Linked DNA regions of Homo sapiens. Changing the gene in region 1 together with any one later gene gives a genetic interaction. Each region holds a gene or a part of one and is shown in the gene's direction. Other genes may lie near its edges.

Region 1 (2,558 bases):
CTTGTGACCTTTCATTAGCCTCAGCCCCCTGAACAAGGAAGGGATCAGTTTTATGGAGGGACTGTTACCATCTTTGCTTCGAAGTTAAACTGTAAACTAAATTTCTCCCGTGGTTAGCTTGGCCTATGCCCAGGAATGAGTGGAGACAGCTAGCCTGTGAGGGTAGACGCAAGATGGAGTCAGCCATGCTAGATTTCTTACTGTCCATAATCTTTGCAAAGGTGGTTTCAGCAGTAGTAAATACAAGCAACCAGATAAAGGTCTACTAGGCAGATCTTTACAGACACACAATAGCTTGTGAATTCCTGTTGATCTCATCTGGGCTCTCTAATATGTAATAGTTTTACAGCATTCTCAGCATGACAAATATTTTTCTACTTTACCGTTTGTTAGAATCCAGTGAACTTAAAAATCCTCTCCTTTCAAAAAGCAAATACTAGATTAAAATAGTTGCAAAGCTTTCTTTTAGGGATTGGAGAAGTGTAGCTACCTTTTGGCATGGTACAGACTTGGAATCTGTTTGCCTTGGCTGGTATTCCAGTCTGCCCTTCTTTAAATGTGTACCTCCTCAGGTATAAAATGGGAATGAGTAATAGTACCTAAGGATAAATTCCCAGTTGAATTAACCTGATAAGAAAATCTTCAGCTCTTTATAGAACATTGCCATCCCACTTTTTTGGGCTATCTTTTAATGTCACCTTGGTTTAAATGTTCATTCTTGTATAGGTCATCCATGTCAATAGTGTTAGAACCTTGGATATCCCCAGCAAACCATCTCATTACTCATTCTTTATTCTTCCATTGCCCACAGCCTGAAATCTTTTGATATTTCACTAAAATATCATTTGTATTTCCCTTTTTGCTACAAACAATAGAGATCTTAAATATACACTTCAGGTTTGACATATGCATACATCCGTGGAGCCTTCATCAGGATCAAGACCTACATGGTACATTTCTGTACCCCAGGAAGTTCCTTCCTATCCTTCTCTAAGCCCACCACCTCCATCACTTTCAGATTTCTAGAACCTAAATTCATTTTGCCTGTTCTTGAAGTTAATATAAATGAAAATTTGGGTCTGGCCTTCATTCACAATGTAATGTTGTAATGTTTCATCCACAATAGTTTCCCTTTCTATTGCCGAGGGGATATACCATTGTATGCAGATGCCACAGTTTGATCATCTGTTCTGTTGATATTGGGCTGTTGCCAGTTCTTGGCTATTGGGATAAAGCTGTCCTGAGTCTGCTTTCATTTTCTCTGTCTGAGATGCTCTGTGGTTCCTGTCTCCTGCTTCCTAGCCCTGCAACCTTGGGCAAGTGTCTTAATCTCTCTGCTTTGGTTTCCTTATCTGTAAAATGGTAGGTTGGAAAATAACTCAGGGTTGGGACTAACATTAAAAAAAAGAGAGAGAGATAGGGTCAGACATGCCTATAATCCCAGCACTTTGGGAGGCTGAGGTGGGAGGATCACCTTAGGTTGGGAGTTTGAGCCCAGCCTGAGCAACGTAACCAGTCCCTGTTTCTACATTTTAAAATCTCAAAGTTTTTCAAATGAAATAGAAGAGAACTTGAGAGTGAATGACATGGAACTGCACACAATGCGTCACACATGTAAATAGAGTTTTGTGTATGTATGTGTATACTAAACACAGTATAAAAATGTATTTGTTATAATTTAGGCAAATCGGTTTGCCAAGCACTGTATGTGCCATTGTAAGCAAGGAAGTTGAACTCTCCTGAGGTTATTTAGTAATAGGTATTTCTAGCTTCAGCATGTCTCAAACAGTCACTTACATAGTGCTTGCTGTGAGCCACGCGCTATTTTAAAAGCTTTCCATATAACATCATATACTCACAACCATCCTTTGAAGTGGGCTTGATTCCCATTTTATATATGGAGAAGTTGAGACAGGGACTATCCCACTTGCCCATGATCACAAAGCTAGAAAGGAAGGGCCAAGATTTGAACCTAGGCAGTGCAAGTGTAGAGTCTTTGCTGTAAACCACTATTCCTGGGGAGACAGGTAAAATAAATTGTATGTGCAAATGCAAATTGATAAGTAATTGATACAATACTCCACCCCTTTATTCCAGATATGAGAAATGAGTGTTGGACGTCGAAGAATAAAGTTGTTGGGTATCCTGATGATGGCAAATGTCTTCATTTATTTTATTATGGAAGTCTCCAAAAGCAGTAGCCAAGAAAAAAATGGAAAAGGGGAAGTAATAATACCCAAAGAGAAGTTCTGGAAGATATCTACCCCTCCCGAGGCATACTGGAACCGAGAGCAAGAGAAGCTGAACCGGCAGTACAACCCCATCCTGAGCATGCTGACCAACCAGACGGGGGAGGCGGGCAGGCTCTCCAATATAAGCCATCTGAACTACTGCGAACCTGACCTGAGGGTCACGTCGGTGGTTACGGGTTTTAACAACTTGCCGGACAGATTTAAAGACTTTCTGCTGTATTTGAGATGCCGCAATTATTCACTGCTTATAGATCAGCCGGATAAGTGTGCAAAGAAACCTTTCTTGTTGCTGGCGATTAAGTCCCT
Region 2 (3,500 bases), about 90 Mb from region 1:
AGGCTTAAGTGGAATGATTTTTTTTCCCCAGGCCATGCAACTGGTATATGCCAGAGCCAGGCAAGTTAAAACCCTGAAGGAATCTCTTAAAGAAGAGATTGACATCATTTTTCCCTCCCTCCTCCTCCCCCCATTAACTTTTTCAGTTGCTAATCTCTAAGTTGTCTTTAGAACTTCGAAAAGTTGCCATTAGTAACTTTTTTTTATAGAAGAGCTTGTGATCAGTGGTTTACTTGTTCTCAATAAACAAATATTTTAACACCTATTTAGTCCAGGAAGTGTTCTACATGGTGGGATAAGGGAACAAAACAGACAAATTCCACTGCCTTTATGGAGCTTTCATGTAGTGTTGGGAGACAGGAAATTAACTCACTTTGTCTCTACAAGTAAAATAATAGTGGTTAACACTTGTGCAAGGTTCACACAGGTTGTTTGATTTAATATTCACTTAGTTGATTTACTCTTTACAACAACCCTACAAGGTAGATATTATTCCCCTTATTTTACAGGGGTACGGAAACAGGTAACTTGCTTTAAGCACTATAGGTAAAAGTGATAGACCTGGATTTTAACCACGATTACGTAGTGCCGGAGTTATTTCTCCTACGCACACACACCTGGATTTTAACAAGATTATCTAGTGCCAGAGTTAGTTCTACACACACATGCACGCACGCACATTTGCACACAACTTCGTGTAAGAAGGACTTTGTATAAGAAGGACTCAGATAAAAAGAACTGACTGATGTGAACTATAAAAGAAGTTGTGGAATTTCCTCATTAATAGCCTTGTATTGCTCTCTTGGTTGGTTGCTAGAAAAGGAATTATAAGTATGAATGGGTGCAGGAGAAGCTGCCTGTGCTTCAGGAACCTGATGCTGAGGAAGCCACCTCTGTTTCTGGCTTATTATTGTTGTTATTATTATTATTATTATTATTATTAGGGAGTTTAAATGTGTAGAGAAGAGTACATATGGAAGCTGAGTAGCCAAGGGGTAGACTGTGTCTTAGCTTCTAATACAGATGCTCCTCAATTTGTGATAGTTGATAATTTGTGATAGATAGATAATTGAAAATACAGTAAGTAAAAAATGAGTTTAATATGCCAGACTTACTGAAAACCATGGCTTTAGCCTAGCTTGCTTTATACGTGCTCAGAACATTTATGTTAGTTTACAGGTTGGCAAAATCTAACCCAAAGCCTATTTTATAATAAAGGTTGAATATCTCGTGTAATTTATTGAATACTGTACTGAAAGTGAAAAACAGAATCTTTGCATGGGTACTCGAAGTATGGTTTCTACTGAATGTGTGTTGCTTTTACAACATCACAAGTCAGAGACCATTTGTAAACCCTTTTTGCATGCTCTGTGGAAGTGGAGCTAGGTCCTTTAAACGTTTTTCTTTTGCCACTGGGCAAAATGTTAAGTTTTGTCAGTAGGCTGCACTGGAGAGGCATTGTAGGAGGAAAGGGTGTTTGTACTTAGTTATAGTGTGCTTTCTTGACGGGCTCTGCTTGTAGCATGAACACCGTCTCCAAGGCCTGGCTCTTGTACTGCATAGTGGTCAGCAGCAGCCAACAGCTTCCCCTAGTACCCGTCTTAGTTGGTTTCATAATGGAAGGTCTCCAGTGAAATACCTCTCAATAAACAGTTTTCCTCAGCACCGAAGAGGGAGGATTTTTGGGCAGGTTCCACTGGCACCTCACCACAGCTACTTCTCTGCCATTCAGTGAGCCACTATCTGTGCCCTCCAACGAGATCTGCATCTTAAGTCTGGAGGGAGGGGGAGGACCTTTATCTCAACCCTAGGGATAGTGAGTGCTTCTTAAATTTGACATTCCCATAATCTTTTAGCCAATCTCTCATTACTCCAGTCCCCTGTAATATTTTTTTGATGTTGAACTTTCCAAGTTCAAATTATTGTGTGATTTCTGCCTCCTGATTGGATCTCTAATTTTGCCATGTGTAATCATTGCTTTTTTTTTTCAGCAACCTCATAGTGCAAAAGAAAATTTGGTTATTCCCCTGAAACTTAATTTACCATTACTGTAATAGCAAGTTTATTTTCAAACTTTCTTTTTATTGTTAAGACTTTTAAGTTTTAAAAATTGAACTTTTAATACAAAACGACTTAAGCAGATATCTCTCTCCTAACCTTTATATTTTCCAGATCTGATTTATTTATTCATGAAAAATATTAAGCTCATGCTTTATTCCAGGAGCTGTCCTATGGACTAAGAGAACTATAGTGAATATGACAAATGGAATTTTTTGCTCTGAGAGACATAGAATTAATAGGGCTTAGTGATAGTTCAGATATGAGGTAAAAATGATGAATCAAGAGGACTCTCCATTTATTTGCCCTGGTGTTTTTGTGTTTTCTGATGTTGTATGATTCACAGAGATAGTAATTCTCTACAATAACAATTATTATTATGCTTAATTTATTGACTGATGAGTTGGGGGAATATATATTAACTTTTAAAAACTGGCAATGAATGGAACTGGTAGACTGCCTGTGTCAAAAGGAAATGAAGGAAAAGGGAAACAAGAAGCAATTTTCATGACAAAACAGTAAAGTATTGATTGGTATGTTAAAGCCTAATTGGTAACTCACAGTTCCATCAAAGCATTAGAACAGTGCAGTTGTTGTGGCTTATTTGAGTAAATACAGGAATGCTGTGACATAGTCTAAAAGAAAAATCATACTAAGCAGTAAACTTCTGATGATTCTTGTGCATCAAAGAGTTGGAATGGCTGAAAGTTTTATTGCATTTGTCCACAATAACATTCTTGTAGTAGGCATATTGGGATTCTATGAAGTCTTTATTTCGAAGTGCATTATAGCACTTTTTGGCTACAAATTTACATTTTGTATAGATGCTTTTCCATCTTGCTAATGAAAGGAACAGGCTGTGGTGGTGAGAGTAAGGATGTTCAGAGGAAATTGATCTACTATTAAAAACTTTGTGACTAATCTGACCCTATTATTGAGATGACACGTTTGTCTTTGAGCCCATTGCACAGTTTGGTCTTAATTTTATAGTTCTCATTGTGACCCACATGCTATGTCTTAGATTTAGGAAGCTATTAAAAATGGTCATTGGTGGCCGGGACGCAGTGGCTCATGCCTGTAATCCCAGCACTTTGGGAGGCCAAGGCAGATGGATCACCTGAGGTCAGGAGTTCAAGACCAGCTTGGCCAACATGGCAAAACCCCTATCTCTACTAAAAATACAAAAATTAGGCCAGGCACAGTAAACTTCTGATGATTCACGTGCAGGTGGTTCACACCTGTAATCCCAGCACTTTGGCAGGCCGAGGCAGGTGGATCATGAGGTCAGGAGTTCAAGACCAGCCTGGCCAATATGGTGAAATCCTGTCTCTACTAAAAATACAAAAATTAGCTGGGCGTGGTGGTGCGCACCTGTAGTTCCAGCTACTCGGGAGGCTGAGGCAGGAGAATCCCTTGAACCTGGGAGGCAGAGGTTGCAGTGA
Region 3 (3,500 bases), on another chromosome or scaffold:
CTGAGCCATACTTGAGCCCCTTCAAGCTATGGGGTGACCAAAGAGCACTGCCTTGGAATAGGGGGAGCAAAGTGCTGAAGTGGCCCTGGACAGTGAATGTAGAGGTCCCATGGGTGCTACTCTGGAAACCTTGCCCTCAAGGTCTTAGCTATGTCTTGAAGATCTCTGAAATGCCTTTGTGGTCATTATCCCATTGTCTTGGTGAATAGAACCTGCCTTCTCTTCCCTATTAATCTCCTTAGCAATTAGTCACTTAGCTACATCCTTAATATTCTCTCTCAAACATGCTTTTTTATTTTATATATTTTTTGAAGAGACAAGGACTTGCTATGTTGCCCAGGCTGGTCTTGAACTTCTGGGCTCAAATGATCCTTCCACCTCAGCCTTCGAAAGTGTTGGGATTACAGGTGTGAGCCACCACACCCAGCCTGCTTTTTTTTTCTTTACATGGCCAGGCTGAGAGTTTATAAATGTTTCTGTTTTGCTTTCCTTTTTAATTACAAATTTCACCTTTAGATCATTTCTCATTTTATGATAAGCAGCCAGAAGAAGCCATGCATCACTGTGAATGCTTTGATGCTCAGATATTTCTTCTGCCAGGTATTGGATTCATTGCTCTTAACTTCTGCCTTCCACAAAGTCCTAGGGCATGGACACAGTCCTGCTAAGTTCTTCACAACTGTATTGCAAGGATGGCTTTTATTTATTTATTTAATTTATTTTTTTGAGGCAAGGTCTCATTCTTGTCACCCAGGCTGGAGTGCAGTGGCACAACCTCTGCTCCCTCACACCCTCTCCTTCCCTTTTGCTGTGAGACGATTCAGCATGAAGGCCCTCACCGGATGCCGGCACCATGCCAGTGATCCTTCCACTTCAGCCTCCCGAGTAGCTGGGACTACAGGCACATGCCACCACACCCCGCTAGTTTTTGTATTTTTTGTAGAGATGGAGTTTCACCATGTTGCCCAGGCTAGTCTCGAATTCCTGAGCTCAAGTGTCCACCCACCTCAGCCTCCCATGCTGCTGGAATTACAGGCATGAGCTACCACACCTGGCCTGGCTTTTTTTTTTTTTCTTTTAAAGACAGGGTTGGTCTCTGTCACCCAGGCAGTGCAGTGGCATGATCATAGCTCACTGCAGCCCAAAACTCCTAGGCTCAATTGATCCTCTTGCCTCAGTCCCCTAAGTAGCTAGAACTGCAGGTACACGCCACCACACCTGGCTAATTTATTTTCTGTAGGGATTGGGTCTCACTATGTTACCCCGGCTGGTCTTGAATTCCTGGCCTCAAGTGATCCTCCTGCCTCAATCTCAAAGTGCTGGGATTACAGGCATGAACCATCACACCCTGCCAACAGGGATAGCTCTTACTCCATTTTCCAATAACTTCTCATTTCTGTCTGAGACCTCACTGAATGAGACCAACCTCATTCTGTCTGAGACCAACATTGTTCTACCAACATTCTGATCACAACCACTTAAGTAATCCTTAAGAAGATAAAGGCTCTGCCTGAAGCTCTTGTCTTCTTTTCAGCCCTCACTGGAATTACCCTCAATGCTCCACTCACACCAATATAGGCTTTTTCTAGCCTGCTCCTCCAGATTCTTCCAGCCTCTCCTCGTTACCCAGTTCCAAAGTCATTTCCACATTTTCAGGTATTTATAGCAATAGTCCCGTTTCTGAGTACCAACATTCTGTCTGAGTCCATTTTGTGCTGCTATAACACAATACCACAGACTAGGTGACTGACTGATGGATTAATTAATTTCTTTTCTATTGCTCAGGCTTCACTAATTTTTAAATTTTTTGTTGAGACAGGGTCTTGCTATATTGCTAGGGCTAGTCTCAAACTCCTGGGCTTAAGCAGTCCTCCCATCTTGGCCTTCTGAAGTGCTGGGGTTACAAGCATGAGCCACCGTACCTGACTGGGTGATTTATAATGAACAAAAATTTATTTGGCTCCTGTTTCTGGAGACTGGGAAGTCCAAGAACATGGTGCCGGCATCTGGTGAGAGCCTTCATGCTGAATCGTCTCAGCAAAAGGGCAGGAGAGGGTGTGAGGGAGCAAGAGATTGAATTTATAGCCTCAGGCCCTTTTATAATCAGTATTAATCCATTTGTGAGGATGGAGCCCCCATGACCTAAATACCTCCCATTAGGCCCCAGCTCACACCACTATTGCATTGGGGATTGAGTTTCTAGCACATGCTTTTGGGGGGGCCTATTCAAACTATAGCACTTACCTAGCTAATTCTACATCTGATGTAAACATTTTAAGTTGCTATGTAATATGGATTCCATTTTTAGGCTTTACTGTGCATAACTTACATCTAGACTTTAGTAGTTTTTCTTTCACAAGATGTTGAAAGTTCACAGTAAATAAAAAACATTCGCCTAATTTTTGTATGTTTATACTAGATCATGCTTTACGATTATGGAATATCCAGACGGACACTCTGGTGGCAATATTTGGAGGCGTAGAAGGGCACAGAGATGAAGTTCTAAGTGCTGTAAGTTGGAAACTGCAGGGCAATGACTTTCAGGTTTACATAGCTGTGAACAGTCTCCATGGAACTGTTTCCTTATAAGAAAGTGTGTTTCATGTAGCCTGTCAGGCAGACATTCACTTACATTTGACATAGAAGATTTTAATCTCCAGATGAAGGAATAAAACAAGTAAAGACTATATTTATTTATTTATTTTTTAAATTACTTGCACTGTATACCAATCCCTGGAGTCTTATGAGAGCAGTATGATCTTGCTCCTTTCCTTTTAATCTAAAATCACTAAGTTAATGTTTGTTTTGCCATTTCGCAGTTATTAAAGAAAAAAATTAAACTATGTAGCCATTAAAGTGCTTTTCCATCTTTTGTTTGAAGTTGAAACATAACGTTTTTTGCTATTTGGAAGTGTTTTATTGTGCTCACACTGTTTTAGGTAACTTATTTCTAGCCATTCTCTTTGGGTGGCGTGGTATAATACAAGACCAGTTTAAAGATAAATACCACCTTTATATTGATGTATTGTAATCCATTGGTCCATTATACAAGTGTTTTTAGTTAGGTTTCAGATTTTAACATTATTTTTGCTTATGTTCCATATTTAGCTCATTTGATTCCTGTAGTAATTTCACATCTCTTAGGTTGTTTTCCATTAAACTATGTAAAGGGGCACCATATTTTACAGCATGTAACATTTTAGTTGAAGGTACTAAAATATTCCTATGTTGAAGTTTGGATTCCTTTGTGAGAATCATACCTTCCTTCGAATACCTTGTCAACTTGGATTTCCTAAAAGTTGCAGTAGCATTCTACGTCTGGCTTTATGTGTGTAAAAGCCAAGTGAACTGTTCTTTATTAATAACTCCAAATTAGTGGTATTGTCTCGAAGGATGTCTTGTTGCTGTTGACAGTGAGGTAATTAGAAGTACCACAACTGTGAATTCAATAAACATCAAGCCTAAAGTTCTTAGGCTCTTATAAAATGGTGCTCATAATT
Region 4 (3,500 bases), on another chromosome or scaffold:
AGTGTAAATAACTGGCCTTCTGTTACGAAATTACTTAGGATTGTCAACCACTAAGTTTCTGGCTAACTCAAATGGTATTTCATGGTGCCTTGTATCTGCCTGGTGGGTGCTCAGTAAATGGGGGTTAAATGAAAAAAATAAATTGTTAATATTTTCTAAAATGGACTCTTTTCAATGACTAAATTGTTTAAGTATATGAATATTATATATTACATGATGTTTATAACTCGTTTTTAAAATGACTACTTTGACATTTCTCTTCAGTGTTGTTAAAGTACAGTCAGACCTTCGTATCCCTGGGTTCCACAACTGCAGATCAGAAATGTTCCCAAAAAATGGATGGTTCTGTCTGTAGTGAACATTTATAGAGTTTTTGTTCTTATCTTTATTCCCTAAACAATACAGTATAACACCTAGTTACATAACATTTACACTGTATTAAGTAGTATAAGTAAACAAGGTGATTTAAAGTATATGGGAGGATGTACCCAGGTTGTATGCGAATACTTTGCCATTTTATATAAGGGACTCAAGGATCCATGGATTTTGTTATCCTCGGAGGGTCCTGGAACCAGTCCCTCATAGATACTGAGGGATGACTGTACTTTCTAGTTTCATTTAAGTTATTGACTGTAAGCACTGTCCAGGAAAATAACCCTTATTCATTCATTCCATGTCCTTTAGTTATGAAACTGGGACCAGAAGCTTTCAGATTTGATGGTGGTGTTGAAGCCATCGCTACAAGACAAAATGAAAAATACTACATCTTACGGCCAGAAGTTATGGAGACTTACATGTATATGTGGAGACTGACTCATGATCCAAAGTACAGGAAATGGGCCTGGGAAGCCGTAGAGGTGATGTTTTAATTTGCATGTTTCTTATAGATAAATTTCATAGTAAAAAATGTTCAGTGATACCCATAAATCAGGCTTATCAACTTTTCTATAATTTTTAATGCTTCGACCAGGATTTTTTCCACCCAGGACTGTGTATTTTCATTGAAGTCATTTTATATCCCTGGCTTCAGCTTTGCTTTGTATAACATTGATATAGATATATCTACTGATAGACTTAGATATTGAAGGAGATAACTAGAAAGGCATAGTCTAAAATTAAGTTCCCATTAATACAAAAATGATGATCTCTTAATTCCACCTAAGGGTTGTTGGCAGCTTGGGGTATTCACCTCTATTTCAATAAACCACTTCATGTTTTTTTCTGTCTTTGGGCTTTAAAATGCTAGTATATGCTTTTACTTAGAGTAAATAGCTACTTAGATCTAACTTTTAGAAAGCACTTATAGAAGAATTACTTTGTATAAGGATATTCCTTTACCAGTCTCAGGTTTCTTGGAATATCTATAAGCTTTCCATCTGCCCAGTGTGTTGTTTTGTCTGTCACCTCTTGGGTCTCTTCCTGCTGAGGATAGTATACCTCCTTCCTAAACCAATCTAGTGAATGCTTTGTGTGCCGAATGCCTGAGGAGGCAACCTGCAGGATATGCATCTAACAATGTCTGTCTAATTGTAAGAGTTATTATTCCTCAAGGAGTGGGAGGGAATTCAGGGGATAAGAACAAGCAAATTCTTTAATTACACTCTCATTCTCTAGCACTCTTTGTTAGAAAGTTAGCTATCTTTAAAAACTGTCCATGAGGAATGACTTCTCTCAGGAAATCTAAAATGAATATTGCCTTTGGTAAAATTTAACTAATATCTTAGGAAGCCATCGGTGAATCTTGCTTATTATCCTCTTCATTTAATATGTGTCTTATCATTAATCATCAGTCATTTTAAATAACAGCAATTCTCTAGGCCTCTTTGAGGGGGCAGTTTTATTACATTTAATCAGTAGTCATTGTAATTTCTTTACATTTCTGTTTTTTTCCTCTGGAGAAAATGTTAAAGTTGAAGCTTTTCTAAACTTTGGTGATAGGGAATTGTTTTGGTCTTCAATTGGCCAGCAAATGAATTGAATATTTTAAGTTGAAAATATCAGGAATGGTGTGTTCCATCAAATCTAAAACACCATAATTAGTAAGAAGCATCATTATTTTATATACCACTAAGAAAAATAACACTACCAATTAAGTTATGACATCCATTTTATAGATGTTAGAATGTACAAAATGTATGGCCGAGAAGGTATCAAAAATGGGAAGTAAGCAAATTCGTATTGCCAGGTAGACAGGATGCTTTGGTTTGCTGTGTTCTTCAGGGGGTTGCTTGTTTATGAGATCATAAGGTTGGTTTATGTGTTATGATTTTTATTTCTTGTCAACTCTTTAACATAATATATGACCTGAAATCGTTTCCCTGTGTCACAACACTGAGGTCTCAATTTTGGGGATGCCCCCAGTAACCTCTGCTAGAACCTGAGCTATAGTGGTGAGCCAGGAGTGCTGTAGGGTCTTGCATTTTTTAAACCAGAAAAACTGGGACTTCGAAGGCATGGCCGCACGTTTTTCCCCTGGTGTTATGCCCACCCCCGTGGCCTCCTGTGTTTCAGCAGCAGCCCCGCATATGCTTGCAGCTCCCACCTCCAGCACTTGGCTGTTCTGATGCATACTTGAGACCACAGCTGGAAACCATGTCAGGAAAAGAAGGTGGAAGAGCTTTTCCCTAGCCAGCTGGCTGTGGTCTGGGAAGTGCTGGGGAGTTAATGGCTGTCAACCAAGGAGGTTTTGGAGTTGGTGGATAACTGTCCCAGTCTTCTTTCCTTCAAGAATCATTCTGGAATGCATGCTACATGGTTCTTCAGAGGGTTTCTAGCAGGAGTGAGCCTCGTTGCACACAGTTGAACAATATGATTCATTGGCTCTTCTGTCCCTGTTTTGCTTTTCCCACTTGCCCACTTCCTGATGTCACCTCCCTGATAGACTTCCTGCATCCTGCGTCCAACCCTTGTCTCATGCTTTATTTTTAAGGGAACGCAAACTGAAACATAGGGGGTCTTAAAAATCACCTCATCCAGCTTTCCGCTTAAAGACAAGACTCCCCTCCATATCTTTGCAAGATAGCTGTTCCTCATCAACCCAAGGACTTTCCAGCAAAGGGGAATGTATCACCTAATAAAGTAACTCATTCCAATTGGTAATATTGAAGGTGTTAGAAAGTTATTTATTTTGAAGCCACAATTTACAGTGTTCTGTGCTCTGGGGGTACCAGAGGGAAAAAATCTCCCTTCTGCATTTCAGCTCCTCAATTATCCGAAGACAGCAGGTTCTGCCATCTCTTCCTTTCCTCATCCATCATTTCCCTTGATTTTCTTCTCCTGACCTGGTTTCCAGCTGTGGTCTTTTAGGGCTGAATAGTGTGAACCTCTCTTCTCTCTTCGCAGTGTGATTTTTTCACAGCTTATGGTCCAACTTGTTCTTTTAGTAGATTTATATTTAAAAAAAAAAAAAAAAAAAAACTGGGAGGCCAAAGTGGGTGGATCATGATCATGGTCAGGAGATCGAGACCATCCTGGCTAACACGGTGAAACCCCGTCTCTAC
Region 5 (3,500 bases), on another chromosome or scaffold:
TTGCCTTCATAAACATTTCTGGTTGTTAATTATATAAATGCACAGCTTAATAACGATCTTAGCCTGAACAGGATGGTGAAACCCTGTCATTACAAAAAATGCAAACAATTAGCAGAACATGGTGGCACACGCCTGTAGTCTCAGCTACACGGGAGGCTGAGGTAGGTTGATGGCTTTAGCCTGGGAGGTCTACGCTGCAGTGAGCTATGATCACACCACTGCACTGCAACCTGGGTGACACATAGAGACCCTGTCTGGAAAAAAAAAAAAGACCTTGAGTTAATAGGATACTAGATTATAACAACCAAAAATGAGTATTAAGAAAATTTTAAATAGTTCCTTTTCTTATATTATAAATAGATACTTAGGGTATAGCAATACAGAAACCCAACTTGTTTATTTCTTTTTTGTTGTTGTTTTTTGTTTTTTGAAACAGCGTCTTGCTCCCTCTGCCAGGCTGGACTGCAGTGGCTCATGACTCACTGCAGTCTTGACCTCCTGGGCTCAAGCAAGTCTTCTGTCTCAGCCACCTGAGTAGCTGGGACTACAGGCATGAGCCACAACACCTGGCTAATTTTTGTAGAGACAGGGTTTTTTCGTGTTGGTCAAGCTGGTCCCAAACTCCTGGGCTCAAGTGGTCTGTCTGCCTCAGCCTCCCAAAGTGCTGTGACTACAGGCATGAGCCACTGTGCCCAGCCTTCGTTTCTATAGTTTGTGGTATCTGCTCTTTAGCTAACTCCTTTGTTAATTGTATTGAACAGCTGATGATTTTTAATAAAGTATTTTGTGTTATAGGTAGCTACTACCATAGAATGTCTCCCTTTTTTTAGTTATATGCCAACTGATAGAGAATAATTTGTAAGAGTAAATAGTAGTGGATGAAGGTCAGTATATGAAGCCCATTATCTTCCTGTACTTTATATTACAATTTCAGGTTCTTTTTGACCCTTAAGGTATGTACCAGAGAAAACCTAGAAATATTGCCACCTGGAATAAGATTGAGTGTATATGAACTAGAAATATGTGAAGAGTTATGACAAGAGATTTTACTAGTGCTGTATTGATTCAGCTCTGGAAGCTGGCTTTGAGGTATCCTGAGAAAGATGCCACAGTTTTAGGATTCAGCTTTTTCTGAAAGCAATAATTGATGACCTTTTTAATCTTATAATTAAATCTCCTTCCAGAGATGCAAAGATACAAACAGTAATCCTCACATGGTTGCATGACTGATTAAGAATTTATCCAGCCAGGTTTGGTGGCTCACGCCTGTAATCCCAGCACTTTGGGAGGCCGAGGCAGGTGGATCACCTGAGGTCAGGAGTTTGAGACCAGCCTGACCAACATGGAGAAACCCCGTCTCTACTAAAAATACAGAATTAGCCGGGAGTGGTGGTGCATGCCTGTAATCCTAGCTACTCGGGAGGCTGAGGCAGGAGAATCACTTGGACCCGGGAGGCGGAAGTTGTGGTGAGCTGAGATTGCACCATTGCACTCCAGCCTGGGCAACAAGAGCAAAACTCCATCTCAAAAAAAAAAAAAAAAAAAAGAATTTATCCATATAATTTTTAAAATAATATCTTGCATTAAAATTAATTTGTTCTCAGTAGACATCTTTTGTCTTTGTTAAGTAGAATTTTATGTTTTTCTAGAAAACTTTAAATTTTGAAAGAATTATGCATAATTTAGAAATTCATGCATATGTTTTTCACTTTTCAAATTAAATAGAAAAATTGTGTATGCTACATCTAATATCTTTCTAGCTCTGAACTGAGTTATTCTGAATTTTCTTAATTATTCATAAGTGCTATTTAGTTATGGTTTCTTCTTGCAGACTAATCTGGTAGCTTCTGGTGCTAATGAATCTGAAATCTACATATGGGATCTAAATAATTTTGCAACCCCAATGACACCAGGAGCCAAAACACAGGTATTTTTATATTGATTTTGATCATTGTAATCAAAAAAGCCAAAAGTAGTTCTCCTAAACCTACTTATTTCACTTTTAAGGCTTCTCACACAAAACATATATGTTTAAAATCATTGTTTAGATATTACTGATTTTTCTTCAGTAATTAATAAATATGTTTCTTCAAAGTATCAGTGAGTCCATCAAGAGTAAATATTTATTTAGTACCTACCACCTGGTAGACACTGGTCATTGTACTAGGCATACAGTAGTAAACAAAATGAACAAAAATCCTTAATAATTGTCTTAGATATAGTATAATTATTTTTGTTCTTTGTGTGATAGTTGCTCTGTGTTTTGGCAACAACCAACCTTCTTAAAACACACTTAGACAAGACCATGGAAGACAAGGTTTAAAATAAATACCTCAAGCCCTTTGCTTGTGTATTTCTATTAAGTTTGGTAACAACAGTCTTCTCCTGTTCTTCCCTGAGTTTCTTTATGTTGTATAGGCTATCCAACTTGAGTAGCCATTGTAACTGGCTCTAACATTTTGGCAATCTGAGAGGTAGCATAATGACAGCATATGCACTACCATTTATAAAGGTATTTTGCTAATGGTCTAGGCTGTAATTTTGCCCTGCCTAGTTTTCTGTCATAGTCACCAACATCTACTTTGTGGTCCATAATCTACCTTGCAGCAGTTGCAAAGTAAAGAAACAGTACTTGGTTTATAGCAGAAATTCAATAAAATTCTTGTTGAATGAGATATTATGAAACAAGATAATACACTTGAAGTGGTATGTACCTGCATTTTAAGTCATATAATTTTATGTGTTGAGAATGTAGAGATGTAGGACTATAAAGCAAATTTGTGGCATAAATGGATCAGATTTTTAAGTAATACACTTTTCAAAATGAAGGATCCAATTTTACAGTTAAATTTGATTATAATAGAGAAACAAGCAGTTTTTATTAACTGTTTCTTCCTTGTAGCCGCCAGAAGATATCAGCTGCATTGCATGGAACAGACAAGTTCAGCATATTTTAGCATCAGCCAGTCCCAGTGGCCGGGCCACTGTATGGGATCTTAGAAAAAATGAGCCAATCATCAAAGTCAGTGACCATAGTAACAGAGTAAGTATGTGATTGACTTGTGATGAACATGTTGTATTTCTGCTGTAGGTATTCCTATATTGTTTGTCAGAGTTGACAACAAATCAAATTTCTGTGAAGTCAAATCCTGTTTTTTTATTAATCAGTCATGTTAGAAGGAATGTTTTGTTTTTTTTCCTCTAAGGGAAAATCATAAAATTCCCAATAAATATGTTGGATATTATTAATGATGAAGAGAGATTGGTTAATCAAGGAACTTATTCCATGATATACTGGTGGTTTTGCTTTGCTAGCTGTTTTAAAACATTGCAGCAACTTTTTTTTTTTTTTTCTTGAGACGGAGTCTCGCTTTGTCGCCCAGGCTGGAGTACAGTGGCGTGATCTCGGCTCACTGCAACCTCTGCCTCCTGGGTTCAAGCACTTCTCCTGCCCCAGCCTTCCGAGTAGCTGAGATTACAGGCATGCACCATCAAGCCCG
Region 6 (3,500 bases), on another chromosome or scaffold:
GTCTAGACTAGGTTGTAAGTTTCCTGCTTCATATAGCTAGTGAGCAATAGAACTAAGATTGGAATACTGGTGTCCTAATTCAGTTATCTTTGCCCTGGGAGCCTGGGCAGATGCGGATGCGAGGTGCGCTGGGAGGTGGCAGCGGTCTGGGGCAGTGGCCTGCGGTGGGTAGGCTGGGACCTCGCAGTCTCCCCACACACATGTGGGGCCCCACCACATGGCGCCTCCCTGCGGGCGTGCACCTGCAGCGGTGGGGGTGGCTGGGGCACCTGGGAACGGGGATGCCTTGCCCTCCGAGGTCTCCCCTGGGCGGCCGCCCATGCCATTTTCCGGGCTGCTCGCCTTCTAGAAGTTCCTGCAGGAAGCTGGTGATGTGGCCTCCCTGACCCGGGCCCGCCCCCCACCACTTTGCTGGAGGGGTAGTCAGATTCCAGCCGGGATACGTAGCAGCAGCTTGGTGGCAGGCGATAGGAAAATGGGCAAAAGCCCCAACTGGCTGGAAGGCAACCCCGGGGGCCGGACCTCCTTGTGGGAGGGCCCGGGACTGCACTAGGCGGGAGTGGAGGCCGCGGCTCCAGGCTGGTCTCGGCCTGGTAATTTGACACGGCCAGCCGGTCACTGTTTAAGGCACTGTGTACCATTTTACTAACTTAATCCTCACGGTGACCGCATTTCCCAGCTGGGCCAACTGGTGCGGGGTTGACTGGAAGCGACCGGGGTTGACTGGAAGCGACCGGCATAGCGCTTGGCAAGTATATAGCAGGTAGTAAAATGGCTGTAATTTTGAAAGTTAGCTTTGTGAAGTGTTGGGGCTGCGGCATCTGCTGGTGGTGTGTGGTATTACAGCCCCGTGCTGGCGGACCCCATTGGGTTGGGGAGCGTTGCGAGATTGTGGCCCCAGAGCCAAGTGGGCAGTTAGGGGTCTCTGGAGACTCTGGAAGGAGAGGTAGCACAAAAGACAGCGGAGGTGTTCGCTTCGGCAGCACATATACTAAAATTGGAACGGTACAGAGATTAGCATGGCCCCTGCGCGAAGATGGCACGCAAATTTGTGAAGCGTTCCATCAAAAAAATAAAAAAATAAAAAATAATAAAAAAAAATGGGGGACTGCGGAGGAGCTAAAATTTCGAGACTGCATGTTTGTTTTTTTTTGTGCACCAGCAGCTCATTAGAAGAATTCCTCAATTGCTGCTTCAACACCCGCCACGATGGCGTTCAACCTGGCAGATTAATTTAACAACTCTCTGATGGGTTGCCCTGAAATTTGAAAAACAGTGCCTTGGGCTGGGCGCGATGGCTCACACCTGTAATCCCAGCATTTTGGGAGACCGAGGCGGGCGAATCACCTGAGGTCGGGAGTTGGAGACCAGCCTGACCAACATGGAGAAACCCCATCTCTACTAAAAATACAAAATTAGCGGGGCATGGTGGCGCATGCCTGTAATCCCAGCTACTCGGGAGGCTGAGGCTTGAACCCGGGAGGCGGAGGTTGCACTGAGCCGAGATCACGCCATTGCACTGCAGCCTGGGCAATGAGCAAAACTCTGTCTCAAGAAAAAAACAAAACAAAACAAAAAACAGTGGCTTAAGCAAAGGCCACAAGAAAGAATTGAGATCAAAGAGGAGTGTGTGCCATGGCTATGGAGGGGTTTCAGTTGTGAATTATGAAATGTCATGTAAACCATTTCAAGCATTTCAAGGAGTTTGAATTTTATATAAAAAACAATGGGAAGACGCTGCAAGTTTTGAAGCAGCATCTCAGACATGTTGAAAAAGATGTTTGGATCCCTAAAATAATGAGAGAAAAGGCCAGAGAGAGGTGTTCTGAACAACTTCAAGATTTTACCAAATGTTGCAAGAACTCTGGAACCCTTACGGTAGGAAAATGCTGGAAAGAAAATTCTCTATTGAAAGGACGTCTAACTGCTCACTATAATGATCCAGCCTTTTATGAAGAATGCAAAATGGAATACCTGAAGGAAGGAAGAATTCAGAAAAACTGGAATTTCTACAAAGAGAAGGCTACAGAAACTTCCCATAAGCCTGTAGGCAAATATTCAAATGATATTCAGGAACTCTAATATTCATGGAAGTCATTTATAGTATAAATTTCCTTAAATAATGGACTCAAGAATGTGTGTTTGCTTTATCCTAATTATGGAAATATTAATTTTTATCTGAAATAAAGATCTTTTATTTCAAAAACGAAAATAAACCCCACACTTCATTAGGGCAGGATTAACATTTGAATTCTACATGTATACATTTCAATCTCCTTTGACCTTGGTTTCATCATCTCTAAAGTTAGGAGTATGTAGTAGTTAGCAGTTGGTTTCCTCACCCTGTAGTAGGGATTCCTCAATCCGGGAAGTGTATGTGTTAGCTTTGTGGAGCCTCTTCAGGTCTGTGGTAGGCTTTCCAGTTGGCATGGGAGTACTTTGAGATCTATGGCTTGCTCTTCCTTTTTAGGCTAGCAGAACCCTATACTTTCTATTGGACTGGAAGCCCATTTCTCTGATGGTTCCAGTGGAAAGCCTTTGTGAACAATAAATCCCAACTAAGTGTTAGGGAACACTGTATTTATTTACTTTTCCTTTGAAGTCTTTGATGCCATTTAGACTGGAAAGTTGTGAAAAATGGAGGTGGAGGTAGTGGGCAGGTGACTATCTCCTTTTCTTTAGTGTGTTCCAAGCTGTAACTTACTAGAGTGCTTTGGCCAAGAGAGCATCTGGTATGATTGGCATGGATTGGAATGACCTGTAGACTCTCACTCTGTCCCCAGAGCCATCATGAAGCTGAATGGCCACCAGTTGGAGAACCATGCCCTGAAGGTCTCCTACATCCCCGATGAGCAGATAGCACAGGGACCTGAGAATGGGCGCCGAGGGGGCTTTGGCTCTCGGGGTCAGCCCCGCCAGGGCTCACCTGTGGCAGCGGGGGCCCCAGCCAAGCAGCAGCAAGTGGACATCCCCCTTCGGCTCCTGGTGCCCACCCAGTATGTGGGTGCCATTATTGGCAAGGAGGGGGCCACCATCCGCAACATCACAAAACAGACCCAGTCCAAGTGAGTCTTGGCTCTTGGGGAATGGAGGTTGGGTGCTAGGGAACAGTGGTTGGTACCTAAAGAGGCCTCCTGGAAGCATGCTGGAGACATCAACATTTACCTTTTAGGAAATGTTGCCTGGAGCATTCAGGGGTCCCTGCTTCCAATACCAGCCTCCTGGGAAAGGGAGGGCAGATAGGGAGGGAGAATGGGTCTGGGGTGCTAGGCCACACACTCGTATTAGCAAGAGAGATTCTATAATTTCTCATGTGAAGTTTCATAAAAAAAGTCTCCAAGCAAACCTCATTTTGATGAGTCAGCAACTCAGTGCTCTGTGATTTCATGATCACTTAGTGTGGTAACAGGGCTGGCCAACCTGTCCAAAATTAGGACCTTCATAATTGTGTCCCATCTCCCATTCTGCCACTGCCACCTTCTTTCTTTAATATTTTTTTT
Region 7 (3,500 bases), on another chromosome or scaffold:
TCATCTGCATTCATTCTTGCCTCTAACTTTCTAATTTAGCTTCTTTACCCACACATCCCAAAATTGTCCTTAATAAGGCCACAAGGCTGGGCGTGGTGGCTCATGCCTGTAATCCCAGCACTTTGGGAGGTCAAGGCGGGTGGATCACAAGGTCCGGAGTTCAAGACCAGCCTGGCCAACATGGTGAAACCTTGTCTCTACTAAAAATACAAAAATTAGCCGGGTGTGGTGGCGTGCGCCTGTAATCCCAGCTACTCAGGAGGCCTCAGCCTCCTGAGTGATTCTCAGCAGGAGAATCACTTGAACCCGAGAGGTGGAGGTTGCAGTGAGCCGAGATCATGACATTGCACTGCAGCCTGGGCGACAGAGCAAGAATTCATCTCAAAATAAATAAATAAATAAATAAGGCCACAAATGGCTTCCTGGTTATTAAATAGAAAAATATTTTTCAGTTCTCATTTTCCGAGCTGCATTTGATACCTTTGGCTGTTATTTTGTTTTTACAACAATTGCTTTCTTTGGTTTCTAGGATATCACCAGAAGGGTAGTTATGGTTTTCTTTCTTTTTTTTGGTTGCTATTTCTCAACAGCAGTATTCTCAATATTTCTTCCATTTCTGATTGTTTTTTTCTCTCTCCTCCTTAAATATTGGTGTTCTTCAAGGTGACCTATTTTTCTTACTCTTATATACTCCCTGGGTGTCTTTAATTCCCATGGTTTTAAATCTTATGCATAGATCAGTGACTCCCATAATTATATCTTAAGGTGAAATCTGTCACTTTGGCTGCAGCTAAATATCTTTTTTTTTTTTTTTTTAAGACAGAGTCTTGCTCTGTTGCCCAGGCTGGAGTGAGGTGGCACGATCTTGGCTCACTGCAACCTTTGCCTCCTGGGTTCAAGCGATTCTCCTTTCTCAGCCTCCGGAGTAGCTGGGACCACCGGCATGTGCCACCACACCCGGCAAATTTTTTGTATTTTTAGAAGAGATGGGGTTTCACCGTCTTAGGATGGTGTTGCTCTCCTGACCTCATGATCTGCCCGCCTTGACCTCCCAAAGTGCTGGGATTACAGGCCTGAGCCACCGCGCCCAGCGCAGATAAATATCTTTATACTGGACATCTCCACTTAGATTTCTTGGTGGCACCTGAAAATTAGTGTGTTTAAAATAACTCTTCGATCTCTCTTCCCTTTGCCATTCCCCACCTTTGTTTTTTTGAGACAGAGTCTTGCTCTGTCAACCAGGCTGGAGTGCAGTGGCACGATATCCGCTCATTGCAACCTCCGCCTCCCAGGTTCAAGCAATTCTCCTGCCTCAGCCTCTGAGTAGCTGGGACTATAGGCGTGTGCCACCATGCCCGGCTAATTTTTGTATTTTAGTAGAGACGGGGTTTCACCGTGTTGGTCAGGCTGGTCTCGAACTTCTGACTTCAGGTGATCCACCCACCTCGGCCTCCCAAAGTGTTGGGATTACAGGCATGAGCCACTGCATCCGACTTTTTTTTTTTTTTTTTTTTTAAAGACAGCTCTCATTCTGTCGCCCTGGCCGGAATGCAATGATGCAATGATAGCTCACTGCAGCCTTGAACTCCTGGGCTCAAGTAATCCTTGATCCTTGATCAAGTGGGTGGAGTGGCTCATGCTTGTAATCTTAGTACTTTGGGAGGTCGAGTCAAGAAGATCCCTTGAGCCCAGGAGTTCGAGACCAGCCTGGACAACTTAGGGAGACCCCATCTCTACAAAAAAATTTAAAAATTAGCCAGGCATAATGGTGCACGCCTGTAGGCCCAGCTACTCAAGAGGGGAGGTGGGAGGATCGCTTGAGCTTGGGAGGTCGAGGCTGCGGTGAGCTGTGACACTTCAGCCTGGGTGGCAGAGCGAGACCTCATTTCTGAAAAACGCACACACACACACACACACACACACACACACAACCAAAACTTATATTTTGTAGAGATAGGGACTTGCTATTGCCCAGGCTGGTCTCAAACTCCTGGCCTCAAGTGATCCTCCCACCTTGACTTTCTAAAGTGCTGGGATTGCAGGCATGAGCCACCGTGCCTGGCCTACATTTCTATTCTTTTCTCTTTCTGTTCAAATGAATAAACACGGCCATCCACCAGGTTGCTCAGGTCAGAAACCTAGGAGTCATCCTAGATTTTTTCCTCTCTTCATCACCCATATTCAATTCCACATAAAATCCCATGAATGCTGTTTCCTCAAATCAGTTTTTAAAAATTTGAGTAATGTATAGATACTAAATATTTCTCTGCTGTCCCAATGTTAAATTATTTATTTATTTATTTTACTTCTGACACAGGTTCTCACTCTGTTGCCCAGGCTAGAGTGCAGGGGCATGATCACAGCCCACTGCAGGCTTGATCTCTTGGGTTCAAGTGATCCTCCCGCCTCAGCCTCCCAAGTAGCTGGGAATATAGGCACGTGCCACCACAACTGGCTAATTATTTATTTTTTTGTAGAGACGAGGTCTCACTATATTACCCAGGTTATTCTTGAACTCCTGAGGTCAAGCCGTGCTCCCACCTTGGCTTTTCAAAGTGCTCGGATTACAAGATCAAGCCAACATGCCTGGCAAAAATTATTTTTATTAAATGTGTATATGCAAACACAAAACTAGATGTAAACTTCATAGGGTTATAGCTATTGTACTATTGTAAAACCAAACATTAAAAATATCAACATATGGCTGGGCATGGTGGCTCACGCCTGTAATCCCAGCACTTTGGGAGGCTGAGGTGGCCAGATCACTTGAGGTCAGAAGTTCAAGAACAGCCTGGCCAACATGGTGAAATCCCGTCTCTACTAAAAATACAAAATTAGCCAGCGTGGTGGTGCACACCTGTAATCCTAGCTACTCGAGAGGCTGAATGAGGCAGGAGAATCGCCTGAACCCAGGAGGCGGAGGTTGCAGTGAGCCGAGATCGCACCACTGCACTTTAGCTTGGGCAACAGAGCGAGACTCTGTCTCAAAAAAAAATCAAAAGCAATATAATTCAATTTTAAAACATTAAACAATATGCTACATTTTGTTTGAAACCACAGTTGATTTGATTGTTTTAATTTTGAATATGTTGGAACATTACTTGGGTGACTATCATGCTCACTTTTTCCTTTTTGTTTTTGAGACACGTTCTCACTCTGTAGCCCAGGGTGGAATGCCTAATTATAGCTCACTGAAGTCAAACTCCTGGGCTCAAGCAGTCCTCTTGCCTCAGCCTCCTGAGAAGCTAGATCTACAGGCATGTGCCACAACTCCTGGCTAATTTTTTAATTTTTAATTTTTTTGTGTGGAAATGGAGTCTCGCTGTGTTGCCCAGGCTGGTCTCCTACTCCTGAGCTCAAGTAGTTCTGCTTTGGCCTCCCAGTGTGATGGGATTACAGGCATGAGCCACCATGCCCAACCTCTACACGATTTTAATAGGGGAAGAATGGGGTGGGGGAGAGGACATTTACTGGAAAACAGACGACTTATAGGAAGGATA

Evidence for each region.
Region 2: changes in B3GNT2 (region 1) and ARL5A together harm fitness more than expected from each alone (negative genetic interaction), as found in Homo sapiens cells (one large-scale study listed by BioGRID).
Region 3: changes in B3GNT2 (region 1) and EED together harm fitness less than expected from each alone (positive genetic interaction), as found in Homo sapiens cells (one large-scale study listed by BioGRID).
Region 4: changes in B3GNT2 (region 1) and MAN1A1 together harm fitness less than expected from each alone (positive genetic interaction), as found in Homo sapiens cells (one large-scale study listed by BioGRID).
Region 5: changes in B3GNT2 (region 1) and SEC31A together harm fitness less than expected from each alone (positive genetic interaction), as found in Homo sapiens cells (one large-scale study listed by BioGRID).
Region 6: changes in B3GNT2 (region 1) and IGF2BP1 together harm fitness less than expected from each alone (positive genetic interaction), as found in Homo sapiens cells (one large-scale study listed by BioGRID).
Region 7: changes in B3GNT2 (region 1) and SEC24A together harm fitness more than expected from each alone (negative genetic interaction), as found in Homo sapiens cells (one large-scale study listed by BioGRID).

What each region holds. Positions count from the first base shown.
Region 1 is NC_000002.12:62,220,115-62,222,672, forward strand, and holds part of B3GNT2 (N-acetyllactosaminide beta-1,3-N-acetylglucosaminyltransferase 2), read left to right. Parts: intron 1-2,097; 5' UTR 2,098-2,106; coding exon 2,107-2,558. UniProt on the Homo sapiens protein: Beta-1,3-N-acetylglucosaminyltransferase involved in the synthesis of poly-N-acetyllactosamine. Catalyzes the initiation and elongation of poly-N-acetyllactosamine chains. Shows a marked preference for Gal(beta1-4)Glc(NAc)-based acceptors.
Region 2 is NC_000002.12:151,821,922-151,825,421, reverse strand, and holds part of ARL5A (ADP-ribosylation factor-like protein 5A), read left to right. Parts: intron 1-3,500. UniProt on the Homo sapiens protein: Lacks ADP-ribosylation enhancing activity.
Region 3 is NC_000011.10:86,261,753-86,265,252, forward strand, and holds part of EED (polycomb protein EED), read left to right. Parts: intron 1-2,419; coding exon 2,420-2,511; intron 2,512-3,500. UniProt on the Homo sapiens protein: Polycomb group (PcG) protein. Component of the PRC2/EED-EZH2 complex, which methylates 'Lys-9' and 'Lys-27' of histone H3, leading to transcriptional repression of the affected target gene.
Region 4 is NC_000006.12:119,185,762-119,189,261, reverse strand, and holds part of MAN1A1 (mannosyl-oligosaccharide 1,2-alpha-mannosidase IA), read left to right. Parts: intron 1-684; coding exon 685-857; intron 858-3,500. UniProt on the Homo sapiens protein: Involved in the maturation of Asn-linked oligosaccharides. Progressively trim alpha-1,2-linked mannose residues from Man(9)GlcNAc(2) to produce Man(5)GlcNAc(2).
Region 5 is NC_000004.12:82,874,154-82,877,653, reverse strand, and holds part of SEC31A (protein transport protein Sec31A), read left to right. Parts: intron 1-1,831; coding exon 1,832-1,927; intron 1,928-2,902; coding exon 2,903-3,043; intron 3,044-3,500. UniProt on the Homo sapiens protein: Component of the coat protein complex II (COPII) which promotes the formation of transport vesicles from the endoplasmic reticulum (ER).
Region 6 is NC_000017.11:49,035,385-49,038,884, forward strand, and holds part of IGF2BP1 (insulin-like growth factor 2 mRNA-binding protein 1), read left to right. Parts: intron 1-2,783; coding exon 2,784-3,065; intron 3,066-3,500. UniProt on the Homo sapiens protein: RNA-binding factor that recruits target transcripts to cytoplasmic protein-RNA complexes (mRNPs). This transcript 'caging' into mRNPs allows mRNA transport and transient storage.
Region 7 is NC_000005.10:134,655,285-134,658,784, forward strand, and holds part of SEC24A (protein transport protein Sec24A), read left to right. Parts: intron 1-3,500. UniProt on the Homo sapiens protein: Component of the coat protein complex II (COPII) which promotes the formation of transport vesicles from the endoplasmic reticulum (ER).